4 linked regions of the Homo sapiens genome follow. The protein of the gene in region 1 interacts with the protein of each later gene in a biochemical or structural test. Each region holds a gene or a part of one and is shown on either strand. Other genes may lie near its edges. The genes, in order: NPLOC4, MAP3K1, RIGI and ERCC6.

Region 1 (3,725 bases):
GTTTAATAGAGATTCATTTTAATCTTGAAAAGATAACTGGCACACAAAGAAAAACTTGCTTCTGGCTATGTGCAGTGACGCCTGTAGTCCCGACACTTTGGGAGGCCAGGGCCAGAGGATCATTTGAGCCTAGGAATTGTTCAGCCTGGGCAACTCTTTTTTTGTATACCCTGTCTCTACAAAAAATTTAAAAAATTAGCTGGGTGTGGTGGTTCACGCCTGTAGTCCCAGCTACTCAGGAAGCTGAGGCAAGAGAATCACTTGAGGTCGAGGCTGCAGTGAGCCATGATTGCACCACCATACTCCAACCTGGGCAACAGCATGAGACCCCATCTCTAAAACAGTTAAATTGGCCAGACTCAGTGGCTCACGCCTGTAAAGCTAACACTTTGGGAGGCCAAGGCGGGTGGATCATGAGGTCAGGAGTTTGAGACCAGCCTGGCCAATATGCTGAAACCCCGTCTCCACTAAAAATACAAAAATAAGCTGGGCGTGGTGGCGTGCACCTGTAGTCCTAGCTACTTGGGAGGCAGAGGCAGAAGAGTTGCTTGAACCCAGAGGTGGAGGTTGTAGTGAGCAGAGACTGTGCCACTGTGCCACTGCACTCCAGCCTGGGCGACAGAGTGAGACTCCGTCTCAAAACAAACAAACAAAAAACAATTAATTAAAAAAAGAAAAACTTGGTTCTGACTCAGAGTGGTAAGGGAGACCCTAGTACCTGCTTTCACTGTGGGCCTTGACTTGCCAAGGCCATGCTGCTGGCCTCCCCCTGTGCGTAGCAGAGGCTCAGCGCCTGGAGTGACCGGCACGTGTGAGACTGCACTCGCTTACTCTGTGTCTTGGCAGCCATTCGATGAGGACTATCTAAACCATCTCGAGCCTCCCGTGAAGCACATGTCCTTCCACGCCTACATCCGGAAGCTGACTGGAGGGGCTGACAAGTAAGCAACTTGCTGTAACCTGGTTGTGCGTAAATTCCTTTTTGTGTAGCTGGCAGTTGTTGCTTATAGCCAGTGAACGTGTGAATGAGAGAAGTAAAGATGAGAAGGGGTCACACGCCTTTGAAAGTTACCGTGGTTCTATATTTATTTATTTATTTTTTATGTACTCATATATGTTTTTAAGAGATGGGGTCTCACTATGTTGCCCAGGCTGGTCTAGAACTCCTTGGCTCAAGTGATCCTCCTGCCTTGGTTTCCCCAAAGTGCTGGATTACAGGTGTGAGCCACCTCGCCTGGCCAACCTGGTTCTAGAAGGGAGCTAGCAAGGCAGAGCGACTGTGCAGGCGCCTGGCTGCGTGGCCACAGTGCAGTATCAGACAGAGGCTGTCCCCACACACACCACCCCAGCAAGTTAGCATCTGTGATGGTGGCCTGTTGATTCTGTGGTCTGAGTTCATTCTCTGCTTTTCAGAAAAACAACTACCCTGTGAGAATCTCAGCTTCCCCACCTCAGTGCCTGGTAACCCTTTCCCCAGAGCCTGGCCTCTGAGTCAGCTTGGTTTTCAGCCACAGCAGGGGCTGCAGCCACTAATCCTCATGGTACCACAGTAGTTGCCCACAGGCTCAGCCAGGTGGGCAGAGGTGGTAACAGTGGCCAGAAAGGGGTGAACTGAGCATTTTGATTTCTTTTAAGCCATGGCAAGCCCTTGCCTGTATGACCTTCTCCTGTTGGCTCTCTGTACACCCTACCAGAAAGTAGCAGGCTTCAGCTATTATTTTATAATTCCTGTCAGTGCAACGAGGAGATGGTGGCTGAACTGAAGTCAGCAACATTTTGTGAAGGATGTCATATTCGCCTGATTGTAGCTTTTCTCTGACAACCTGCTGACATCCTAAAATGACTTTTTAAAAATGTTAGACCAGAAGAAAAAACCTGCTAGAAACCCACTGTTGCTTGTCAGTGGGGAAAGCTGTGGAACTCTCTGGACTAAGGAGTGGGTGCAGATTGATTGTAGTGAAAGAGACTTGGTCAGCCTTTCTCAGTCTAGGTCAAGGAACACAGTCTCTAGTGGGGGCGTGTTTGTGGCTGCTGTTAGCATGCAGATTCAGTGACGAGTCTTTGCTTCCTAGATGCTATGATACCAAAAATGGCTCACCACCAAAAATGATCAGTATGTGAGGTAATGCATATGTTAATTAGCTCAATTTAGCCGTTCCACAGTGTGGACATGTTTCAGAATATCATTTCGTACACTGTAAATATATCGTTTTTATTTGAAAAACAAAACCTCACGTCTACCTTAAAGATACAGATTTCTTTTTTTTTTTTTTTTGTCAGTTATATTTCAATAAAGCTGGAGAAAAAGAAAAAGTTCAGAGTAGGGTCCAGGATTTTCTCATTGACAGTCTTCAACAGTAGTTTTTATTTTAGCCTAAAGCAGAGTAAAGATGCCTTAATTATATATCCTAATCAGATTTTTCCCATGAATAAGAATTTTTTACAAATATCTAAGTACTGGGCTAATGTCAAAGTTTCTGACAATTTAATGAAACCTGTAGGAGCCTCATGCCCGCTCAGTGGCACAGGTGAGATCAGTAGATATTCTACAGTATTCTTGAAAGCTTTCTCGGATGTTAGTGATAGATGGTAAAAAACACCACAGTTTGGTAGGAAAGTAGTTGTGTGTTCCTGTATGGTTGAAGTATGTGGGACAGAAGCTGGGATTCGGAATGTGCTGGAACTGTAGGTAGAGCTTCCATTAGAATCATCCTTAGCCCATCTTCCCTGCTGCTGCCACGTGCTTAGCTCCTGAGACACTGTTCAGGAGGTATAAGATACTTAGCATGTCATTTCCAGCCTCTTGCTCAACTTTTCACCAATGTGATGTTTAAGTTGCTTCTCTTCTATGTAGGGGGAAGTTTGTTGCCCTGGAGAACATCAGCTGCAAGATTAAGTCAGGGTGCGAGGGGCACCTCCCGTGGCCGAATGGCATCTGTACTAAGTGCCAGCCGAGCGCCATCACGCTGAACAGACAGGTGAGATGTTCCCTGTCTGTCTAGATTTGTTTTCATGGCTGAGAAACGGATATTTCCAGAAGAGCCCCTTGGAGTGGAATGCTATTAGCACTATGCGTGGTGGATTTTCAGTACTTTTTGATGGACTGAATGATCCTTTTGTGGAAGTGGTACACTGAATATATCATTTTTAAGGCTTCTTGCTCTTGGAGATATGGAGTGCGCGCCCTCAGTTCTCTGTTTTGCTGGCTCATATGGAGGCAGAATGTTCCTGATGATTATTTAAAATCCTCAGTGGTTGTGAGGAAACTGGCTCTGAAGGTTGGTAAAGGGGCACCCCTTGGACCAGCTCTGAGCACCTGTCCAGGCTGGCTTAAGGAGAGAATGTGGCTCAGGAAGGAGGGAGCGTTCCGGCCTTTCTGGATGTTCTGCTGTCCTTGTCCCGCCTCTGAGTAGCCTGCCTCGCCTTCCTCCTGCCGCTGTGCCCTTAGAGAAAACGGCTCCTTAGAGAGAATTCCGTGGCCTCCTCGACTTTTTTGGAAACCTCCTATTCTCTATTCCTTTTTTCTTCTTGAAAACTACTTTATTTTGGCCGGGCAAGGTGGCTCACACCTGTAATCCCAGCACTTTGGGAGGTTGAGGTGGGCGGATCACCTGAGGTCAGGAGTTCAAGACCAGCCTGGCCAATATGGTGAAACCCCATCTCTACTAAAAATACAAAAAATTAGCTGGGCGTAGTGATGGGCGCCTGTCGTCCCAGTTGCTCAG
Region 2 (3,725 bases), on another chromosome or scaffold:
TAGAATATCCCTCAATTTGGGTTTATCTGATGTTTTCTCATGATTAGATGGAAGTTACGTATTTTTCACAAGAACGCCACAGAGGTGACAGGCCTTTCTTAGTGCATCATATCAGTGGGTACATATGCCCATGGCTTTTATTATTGGTGATGCTGTCAGTTAAGGTAATGTCTACCAAGTTTCCCTGCTGTAAAGTTAATATTCCTAAATATCTTGTGAGAGTTACTTTGAGATTATGCAAATACCCTATTTCACCTCAAAATTTTGTCCACTGATTTTAAAAGCATTTGTGGATCTTGCCTATAGCAGTTATTACTACACCATTAAAAATGGTGCTCTCTTGGGCACAGGGAGGGGAGCATCACACACTGGAGTCTGTCGGGGGTCGGGAGGTAGAGGAGGGATAGCATTACAAGAAATACCTAATGTAGATGACGGGTCGATGGATGCAGCAAACCACCATGGCATGTGTGTACCTATGTAACAAACCTGCACGTTCTGCACATGTACCCCACAACTAAAGTATAATTTAAAAAATGGTGTTCTAGTGGTGATTTTCTATTTTCCTCATTCCTTCTACATTAATTAATTGGAATTATTCTATAAAGAAGAGCTTCTCTGTTTATATACCTATTCAATTTTTAATTTGTATTGGTGTAGGCTCCTGGGTATTCATTTTGTTCTGTGGGTTGCAACCCAGTACTACCATCATTTGTTTTGTTGCTCTAATTATTCCAGCCTTGACCATTGGGAGCTCTTTCAGGTTGGCGCCTGTTCTCATTTTCTTTTTTAAAATAATTTTTTTTAACTTTTCATCTTGAAATGAATTCAGACTTTTAAAAATTGCAGAGAAAAGAGTTCAGAAAATTCCTTCCTGCCCCATTCATTTATTTTGTTAGTTAGTTGTATTATTACAGAAGCATGGAATTCTTATTTTATTCTATGGGTTATAATCCATTCCTGTCTACTTATTTTGTTGCTCAAATTGTCTCAAATTAGGCCATTATCTCTGATGCTTTTTAAGTGTACATAAACTGACCTTCAGATTTTTTTCCTTAGAAAACATTGAGAGCCATGCTGGTATATACTCCTTGCCACAGTTTAGCGGAAAGAATCAAACTTCAGAGACTTCTCCAGCCAGTTGTAGACACCATCCTAGTCAAATGTGCAGATGCCAATAGGTAAGGCTTTATTGATGAATCACTTCAAACCCTCTTGTCTTAAAAGTGCCTCGCAGCAAGCCTCACACCTAGTGTGAATATCTGATACATTTTATTAAATGAGTCTTTGAACATTGTCTTTTAATGTGAGATTTAAAATGAAAATGCAGCATAAAGCTCTTAAGGACTGGCGGAAAGAACTACTGGCAAGTAAAAGCCAGGCAAACAAACTGCATGGATCTCCACATTATTGTATTGTGATTTACTCTCTTTAGTAACATTCATAATCTGAAGACCAGTCGATAAGAACAGTAGTTGACATTTATATCTATAAGTTATAATCTCATATTAGAGTATGGGTTACACAGAATAGGAACCAGTAAGATCATTACACCTGCATATGCCTTATTATCAGGATAAAAAATTAACAAATCCATCTCATTTTCAGTGTAGTGGAATTTTACTCTACTTATGACAGTTTTGTCAAAAAATTTTTAGATTTTTTATATTCCTGCAATATCCTTAAAAATTGACAGGGAACAAGAATAACCCTAACTGGAAAGAAAAATATGAAGTAGAGAATTGAGGTACAATGACAGTAAAGATGAGTACAAGCCATGCTTTTTTCAGACCAATGGTTCTCTTTTATTTTCCCCTTCCATAAAATAGGAGGAAAAGATCAATTTTCATTTAATAATCACAGCTACTGTGAACAGTTATTTGGTAGTTCCTATTTCTTTCTATCCCAGCAGATCTTGGTTAGCAAGAAGTGTTGAATCTCCCTTCTGTTGCCTCTTCCATTTCACCCATTTAGAGTTCTCTCAGTACAACCTTTCTCTTCCTCTGCAAGTCATAATGACTTAGTTTGCACAGGATCTCAAAAATTAGGTACCTACCTTTAACGAATTTCTCATATCATGAAGTCTGTCTTTTGCCTCTATTGTTTTCTCTATAGATTGAAAATATTGGATGTTTCCTTGTTGCTTAGAGAAAACATTGTATATCTGTAAAATATTGCAAATTAACAAGTAATTTGCAAAATGCATAGGAAAAATGTCATTTTTAAATATTAGAATAGGTATATTTCTGAGAATTCAGTGTTCTCATGGTATTTGTTATGCTGCTCACTTTTTGAAACTCCAAACTTAGGTTGTTTACCTGGTCACCTGAATGACTGAACATAAGAAATACTGTAGAGAGATTTTATAATATTCAGACCTCATTTTGGCTATGTAAGGAAATGGAGGGTTTTTGGATAGGAAGGTTTTGTTTTTAATTCAAGAGCTTCTTAGTGAAAGTTCAGAAATCAAAATATCAAGGTCCTTGTTTTTTCTTTTAACAAAATATAAGACTTTTATCTGATTTGGTATTTAAATCAGTACTTGCAAAGAGCCATTGTTGAAAATTCTGTGCTTAACATAGGGGATATGTTAAATTTACGAAATTAGACCTAATAAATGAATATTACTACTTATGGTGACATTGTTAATATGATTTTAGTGGTGGAAAAGTAAACACTCCTGAAAACATTATTTCTCCACTTTTTCACAAGGCATTACATTACTCCTCTAATATTGTATAGTGTTTTAGCCAAGATCCAGGATTGATGTTGCTTTTCCTTTGTTTTTAGCCGCACAAGTCAGCTGTCCATATCAACACTGTTGGAACTGTGCAAAGGCCAAGCAGGAGAGTTGGCAGTTGGCAGAGAAATACTAAAAGCTGGTAATAACTTTTCACTTAAAAGGAATATAGCATATTTTATCATGTTCCTGAGCAGCCTTGTCTAATCTCATAATCTCTCATGAGGCAGTTTACAGGATTTTGAAGTAATTTTATAAATTGATTCACTGTGTTACAGTTAGAAATGTGAATTACTCTGAGAGAGAAATTCTTTAAAATAGTTCAGAATATTTTTGTTGGCCTTACACCATTTAATCATGTCTTGTTTTAGATTTTAATATCACTATTTTTTAATCATTTATTTTTACTTTCCTTTTTGTAGGATCCATTGGTATTGGTGGTGTTGATTATGTCTTAAATTGTATTCTTGGAAACCAAACTGAATCAAACAATTGGCAAGAACTTCTTGGCCGCCTTTGTCTTATAGATAGACTGTTGTTGGAATTTCCTGCTGAATTTTATCCTCATATTGTCAGTACTGATGTTTCACAAGCTGAGCCTGTTGAAATCAGGTAATTTTTCTTCTGAAAATGTATTACTTGTATCTTCCTACCCTCCCTACACCCTCCTCAAGAATGACACATTTTAGATTTTTGAAAGACTCAGAGCATGAATAGGTTGCTGATACCTTAATATTTGATTGACATATGAAAACCCAAAGTCTGGGCTCTTTAATTAAAAATTCATAGATACTTTATGCTGAAATGGTTTTTGAAGTATACATGCTGTAAATTACTACCATTTTTTAAGTTTCCATGTATTTTTCAGTAATTGGAACTTATATGGTAATGAATGTTTTTTTCTTTCAGGTATAAGAAGCTGCTGTCCCTCTTAACCTTTGCTTTGCAGTCCATTGATAATTCCCACTCAATGGTTGGCAAACTT
Region 3 (3,725 bases), on another chromosome or scaffold:
AAAAATTAGCTGGGTGCGGTGGCGGGTGCCTGTAATCCCAGCTACTCAGGAGGCTGAGGCAGGAGAATTGCTTGAACCCGGGAGGCAGAGTTTGCAGTGAGCCGAGATCGTGCCACTGCACTCTAGCCTGGGTGACAGAGCAAGACTCTGCCTCAAAAAATAAAATAAAATAAAAACAGAAAATAATGCATATAGGTGAGGATGTGGAGAAACTGCAACCCTGTGCCTGATTGGTAGGATTGTAAAATGGTGTTAACAGCCATGGAAAACAGTATGGCAGTCCCTCAAAAAATTGAAAATATATATCACCATATGATCCAGCAATTCTGCTTCTGGTGTATTTCCAAAAGAATTGAAAGCAAGGTATTGATGAGATATTTGCACATCCATGTTGATAGTAGCATTATTCGTGATAGCTTACAAGGTAGAAGCAACTCAAATGTCCATCAGTGATGAATGGATCAACAAAATGTGATATACACATACAATGGAATATTATTCAGCCTTAAAAAAAAAAGGAAATCCTGGCACATCCTGCAAAATGGACATACATTGAGGGTGCTGTGCTGAGTGAAATAAGCCAGTCACAAAAAGACAAATATTGTATTTTGCCACCTATATAGATTATCTAAAGTAGTCAGATTCATAGAAACAGAAAGAGTGGTGGTTACCAGGAGCAGGGGTGAGGAGAGAAAAAGGAATAGTTGTTTCATAGAGTTTTAGATTTGCAAGGTGAAAAAGGTCTGGATTTTTTTTTTATAACAAAATGAATTTAACACGACTGAACTGTACATTTAAAAATAGTTAAGATGGTAAATGTTTTATCTGTTTTTTACTACAATTTTAAAAAAGAATGAGGTTGAACATCTTATGTATGTTTCTTGGCCATTAGTATTTTTCTCTGAACTTTCTAAATATGATTTTTAAATAAATATCTTTTAAAGGCATGTAGAATAATATTAAGTAAATTTCCCATTTACTTAATATTATCTTAGAAAAATTAGAAGGAAAGTTCCTTGTGGGCAGGAATTAAGGTTTATATTTCTTTTTGCCTTCTTTACTGCTTTCCACTGAGAAGATACTTAATAAACCTGTTGACTCTGACTTTTTAAAGACAAATCAGGGATTGTAGGTGAAGTCTATGAGTCACTTTGGAAGAAAGATTTTATACTAAGATCAAAATGTAAGACTTCAAAGTTTTCCTTAGTACTTTTTCCCAATAGATAATAAATATTGCTAGAAGACCTAAAGTGTTGGCTGACTAAAATGAATACTGTTTTCTTTTTGAAAAATCAATGACAATTGGGGGTAATTTACAGATATTTTTTGAATTCTACCACCATACATTCAAACATGATTTCTATGATACTAATCTCAAAGTATTTTTCAGTTGGTTTCATAAAAGTCCACATTTTTTTTCTTTTTTTTCAGGTTATTCTGGACTTTATGAAGCCATTGAAAGTTGGGATTTCAAAAAAATTGAAAAGTTGGAGGAGTATAGATTACTTTTAAAACGTTTACAACCAGAATTTAAAACCAGAATTATCCCAACCGATATCATTTCTGATCTGTCTGAATGTTTAATTAATCAGGAATGTGAAGAAATTCTACAGGTAAGTTAATATAAAATACTAAAATTGGGGGAAATAATTATAACATGGGAAGGTCTTCTGTTTTCTATACTGTTTTAGACCTGAGAAAGATCATTGAAACCCACAAAAGTACTCATAGAATAGTACTTTTTTTTTTTTGAGACGGAGTCTCGCTCTGTCGCCCAGGCTGGAGTGCAATGGTGTGATCTCGGCTCATTGCAACCTCCGCCTCCTGAGTTCAACCAATTCTCCTGCCTCGCCTCTCGAGTAGCTGGGATTACAGGTGCGTGCTACCATGCCCAGCTAATTTTTGTATTTTTAGTAGAGATGGGGTTTCACCATGTTGGTCAGGCTGGTCTCGAACTCCTGACCTCGTGATCCACCCGCCTTGGCCTCTCAAAGTGCTGGGATTACAGGCGTGAGCCACCGTGCTCAGCCAGAATAGTACTTTTAATGTGAACTGAGTAATTTTTATGTCACAAAGTTTTTTTGAAGTTTGCCCTATTTTCAGTTAAAATCACCACAGTCTGTGAATAGTATTTTATGCAAATTTAAATTGAACAGTTGAGCAAATGAGAAAGGGCTACAGACTCTAGCAGTTAAGTGTTTAGACTCTGGACACAGATGAATTTTGTTAGAATCATAGCTCAACCACTAGCGGTATGATCTTGGGCAAGTTACTTAGTTTCTCTGAATATCTATCTGTTTCCTTGTGTGTAAAATGGAAATAATAATGTTACCTTATAATATGGTATTTTCATAAGGGTAATGAGATAATATATGTAAAGTACTCATGTATGTCTTGCACAGAGTATGTGTACAATAAACTTTAGTTATTATGGTTAGTAAAAGTCATACAAATTCCTCAACCCTGAAGAAAAATTTGTTAATATTTTGTTATCTGTTTCCAAATATTGCTATATGCCAATATACCCATATTGGGAATGGTTGTCAAATGATTATTTTCTTAATATTGCTGATGAGGATAGGTATAAGAACTTAGAGGTGATGAGAAGGCTTGGCTTGACATAGTGACATCATGTGTAAAGGACAAAGATGAAGGAAAAAGTATCTTAAAAGACTGTGTTGGATGGGGCAAAAATTGTCATGGATATGACCCACTGAGCTGTAATGTACAATGGCTTTAAATCAGATAGTACATGACTGACATTTCTTCAGTAAAAATTGATAAAGGGAAAACTTTTGAGATAATTGATCAATAAACTACAGTTACCTTGCTTAGATTTGCTCTACTAAGGGGATGATGGCAGGTGCAGAGAAATTGGTGGAATGCCTTCTCAGATCAGACAAGGAAAACTGGCCCAAAACTTTGAAACTTGCTTTGGAGAAAGAAAGGAACAAGTTCAGTGAACTGTGGATTGTAGAGAAAGGTAAGACACTGTACCCTCCTCACAGCTCTACTTAGGACTCGCTCATTCCAACCGGTCTTTTACATCCCATCAGAGGCGTTTTTCCCCTCAGATAGCCAGAGCTACATCTCTAACGCGAGACCAGCAGGAAGCTGGATTCTGGGAGGGAGGCAGTTACTTGCCTACAAAATTAGTTTGGTTGCATATAACCCCTAAAAATGGACTGGGGAAAACCACTCTCATCCAGAATTAGCCCATCTGGCCCAAAGGATTTGAGGAAGGCAAAATCCGAACTCTCAGTCTAAGTTTAGATTATCAGAGAAATAGCTTGAGAATTCTAGAGTTAAAGGTTCAAACTCCAGGACTTACCCCCTTTTCAGAGTTGATTTCTTGACAGACATTGCCTGGTTCTCTTACTGGAAGCCATCTGGAACTGAATCCGACGGGTGAAAGAATTGGTTGTCATTAAGTGTCTGAACTATCATTTGGTTTCTTGAAGCTGACACTCAGCATTGTTTCAAAGGCTGAGTTTGGTAAACATCTGAATATCTGGTCTTAGCTTTCCTAGGCTTCTTTAGATCATAAGTTGTTTCAGAAACTGTATAAATACACATCTGATTTAATGGGTCAAGAGTCAGTCAGAAAAGGAAGACATGAATGTCTGCTAAATCATGCTCTTTTTTTTTTTTTTTTTTTTTGGTGCATACGAATCCCTCCGAGGTCTTGTTAAAATGTGGATTCTGATTCAGTAGGGCAATACGTT
Region 4 (2,801 bases), on another chromosome or scaffold:
CCACAGCTAAGTACAGCCCTAGGTTTGGTGTGTATTCTCCATGCATTTAGAGAATCACATGACACAGACTGCTGCTATAATGTCATTTTCCCATTCTTCCTTTACTAATAAAATTTTTGAGTTTTACCTGGACGTCTGGCTGCTCAGCTTAAGACTACTTCTCAGCCTCTCTTATAGTTAATTGTGGCCATATGACTAAGTTTTAAACTTCCCAATTGGCCCTTTAAAGAAGCAGGGTATGCACTCTCCTTGACATTCCCCTTTCTTGCTGGCTGGGAGGCCAATGGGAGCTTCAGTAGTGACCTGGCATCTCAAGAGATGGAAGTGATGTGTTGAGGAAGGAGAAGTTGGCCTGCCAGTCTTGAACTGCTCTCCTTTGACCTGTTATTTAAGAGTAAAATAAAATACTGACTTGCTTAAGCTACTGTCTTTTGAAGTCTATTATAGCAATTAGTTTGCTTTAAATATGTAATTTATATTAATGGCCTTATACCATCCTTATTTTGCAACTAACTTTTCATTTAATATTATATGCAAGACATTTCTATTCCTGTAAGTATAGCTCTGCCTGCACAGAATTGTTGGATTAATGATGTAGATTTTAAATGTCAGTGGATGTAGCAGAATTGCTTGCATCAATTCACCCTCCATAAAAGGACCCATTTCTCCAAACCCTTGCCAACAGTAAGTGGTATCAATATCGATAGGTTGTTTTGTTTTGTTTTAACCAGTCTCGTGATTGAAAGTACCTTGTTTTCACTTGAATTTCCCTGATTACGTACAAAATCAAACATTTCCATGTTTATTGGCCATTTGTAGATCTCTACCGTACATTGCCTATTAGTGTTATGTTGGCCTAGTTTTCCTGTGGGTTGTTTATCTTTTAGGATTGCTCCCCTAAACAAAAACAAAAAGGCAGTTATTCCAATGATCAACAAATATTCTTTTCTCCACCAGTTTAAAATGTCAGCTTTCAACTCATCACATGCTAAGTTGTCTATTTCTGTCCTGTGGATCCAGGTGTTGGTTCTACCAACCACACTCCTCACGCTGTCATTTGGTGCTTTGCATTGTGTTTTGCCATTCATGGGCAAGTTCCTTTTCCTTTCTCCCCCTCTTCAGTGTCTTATACTTGGGTGTTTTCTGTTCCAGCTGAATCAAGAATTAGTTTATTAAATTCCAGTAAAATTGTGGTGTTCTTTTGACTAGGATTGCATTTGTTTACACATTAATTTGAGAATAATAGACCTCTTTATAATTAATATAATGTTTCTGATTAGTGTTATGATAGGCCTCATTTTATTAAAGTCTTTTATATTCTTGGATGAAATTTTAATAACTTTCTTCATAAATGTCTTGCACATTTCATAATAGGCTTATTCCTAGGTGTTTTATAGATTTTTAGTTTTGGTTGTGAGTCTTTTAACTTACATAAAAATATGGAGAATTAGCATATTCACATATCTATTTTGTGATGTTTATCATACGGAAGTTTTAAAATATAGTAAATTCAGTCTTTCCATTTTTTTTTGTTTATTTAAGAACCATTCCCTAGCTAGGGTCATGAATACATTCTTATGAATTATTAATCCCATATGGATAGCTAGTTTCCCTAGCACCTTTAAAAAATAGTTTATTATTTTCCTCCTGATGTATAAGGCCACCTTTACCAATTTACATATAATGTACGGAAATGTTTCTTGGCTCTGCATTCTGTTAAATTGGTCCATTTATCTAACTTTGCTTAGTAACCCACTGTTTTTATCATTGTGGTATCATAATTGATTATCACAAATGGTAGAATGATTGTCCTCAAAGTCTTTTCTGGTATATATTGATATAATTGTATAGCTTTTCTTGGTGTAGTAAAGTACACAGTTAAATTTTCTAACATTGAAATATCTTTTAGATTTTCACTTCCAGAATGGCAATGTGAAGGGCCCTGTGGACCCACTGTCCTAGGAATTAGCTATAACTAGTGAAAATTGTAACAAAAAATAAACACCTTCCTCTCATACAGAGAGACACAAACACTTAATGCCACTGGAAATTGTCCTAAAAGCATGTAGAATAAAGTAACGCTTATTCAAGAAAATCCAAATCTTGGTAAGAACAGTGAGTCAGACATTTCAGCCACAACACACTCACTCCCTCCCTCCCATTTCAGTGGGTGCAGCCAAGAAAACAGAGCTCCGTCTCCCTCAGCTCCCTGTCCAGAGGTATGGTACCTCACAGGGAGGGGCAAGATGCCAGCATTTCTTATCCCCTCCAGCTTCAAGTGGCAAGAGCTAAATTCATGAAGTTAAAAACTATAATAAGGAAAAAATGCACTAAAGGGGTTCAATAGTAGATTTGAACTGGCAGAAGAAATTGTCAGCCAACTGGCAGATAGAATAAGAGAGATATGCTTTCCAAAGAACAGAGAGAAAAAAAATGAAAAATGAGCAAAACCTCAGAGAAATGTGAAGCACCATTATGTGCACCATTAAGTATGCATGTAATGGGAGTACAAGAAGAGCAGAAGAAAAAGGAAATATTTAAAGATACAATGACTGAAAACTCTCCAAATTGATTGAAAAACATCTAGGAAGCTTAGTGAACTTCCAGCATGATAAATGCAGAGGGATTCACAGACACATCATAGTCAAAAATGCTGAAATCAAAGATGAGAAAACCTTGAAAGTAGTGAGTGAAAAAAAGATACATCACTTAGAGAACAAAATTAATACTTGACTTCTCAAAAGAAATAATGGAGGCCAGAAGGCAGGTATAACAGTCAAAGTGCTTGAAGAAAAAAAAAC

What was found.
Region 2: of the proteins of NPLOC4 (region 1) and MAP3K1, one has a biochemical effect on the other in vitro, tested with the Homo sapiens proteins (one large-scale study listed by BioGRID).
Region 3: the proteins of NPLOC4 (region 1) and RIGI form a complex in vitro, tested with the Homo sapiens proteins (one study listed by IntAct).
Region 4: the proteins of NPLOC4 (region 1) and ERCC6 form a complex in vitro, tested with the Homo sapiens proteins (one large-scale study listed by BioGRID).

Annotation. Positions count from the first base shown.
Region 1 is NC_000017.11:81,605,944-81,609,668, reverse strand, and holds part of NPLOC4 (nuclear protein localization protein 4 homolog), read left to right. Parts: intron 1-846; coding exon 847-941; intron 942-2,854; coding exon 2,855-2,978; intron 2,979-3,725. UniProt on the Homo sapiens protein: The ternary complex containing UFD1, VCP and NPLOC4 binds ubiquitinated proteins and is necessary for the export of misfolded proteins from the ER to the cytoplasm, where they are degraded by the proteasome.
Region 2 is NC_000005.10:56,877,921-56,881,645, forward strand, and holds part of MAP3K1 (mitogen-activated protein kinase kinase kinase 1), read left to right. Parts: intron 1-1,059; coding exon 1,060-1,181; intron 1,182-2,790; coding exon 2,791-2,882; intron 2,883-3,162; coding exon 3,163-3,352; intron 3,353-3,649; coding exon 3,650-3,725. UniProt on the Homo sapiens protein: Component of a protein kinase signal transduction cascade. Activates the ERK and JNK kinase pathways by phosphorylation of MAP2K1 and MAP2K4. May phosphorylate the MAPK8/JNK1 kinase.
Region 3 is NC_000009.12:32,491,649-32,495,373, reverse strand, and holds part of RIGI (antiviral innate immune response receptor RIG-I), read left to right. Parts: intron 1-1,431; coding exon 1,432-1,613; intron 1,614-2,822; exon of another isoform or gene 2,823-2,835; coding exon 2,836-2,983; intron 2,984-3,725.
Region 4 is NC_000010.11:49,453,770-49,456,570, reverse strand, and holds the end of ERCC6 (DNA excision repair protein ERCC-6), read left to right. Parts: 3' UTR 1-2,101; downstream 2,102-2,801. UniProt on the Homo sapiens protein: Involved in repair of DNA damage following UV irradiation, acting either in the absence of ERCC6 or synergistically with ERCC6. Involved in the regulation of gene expression.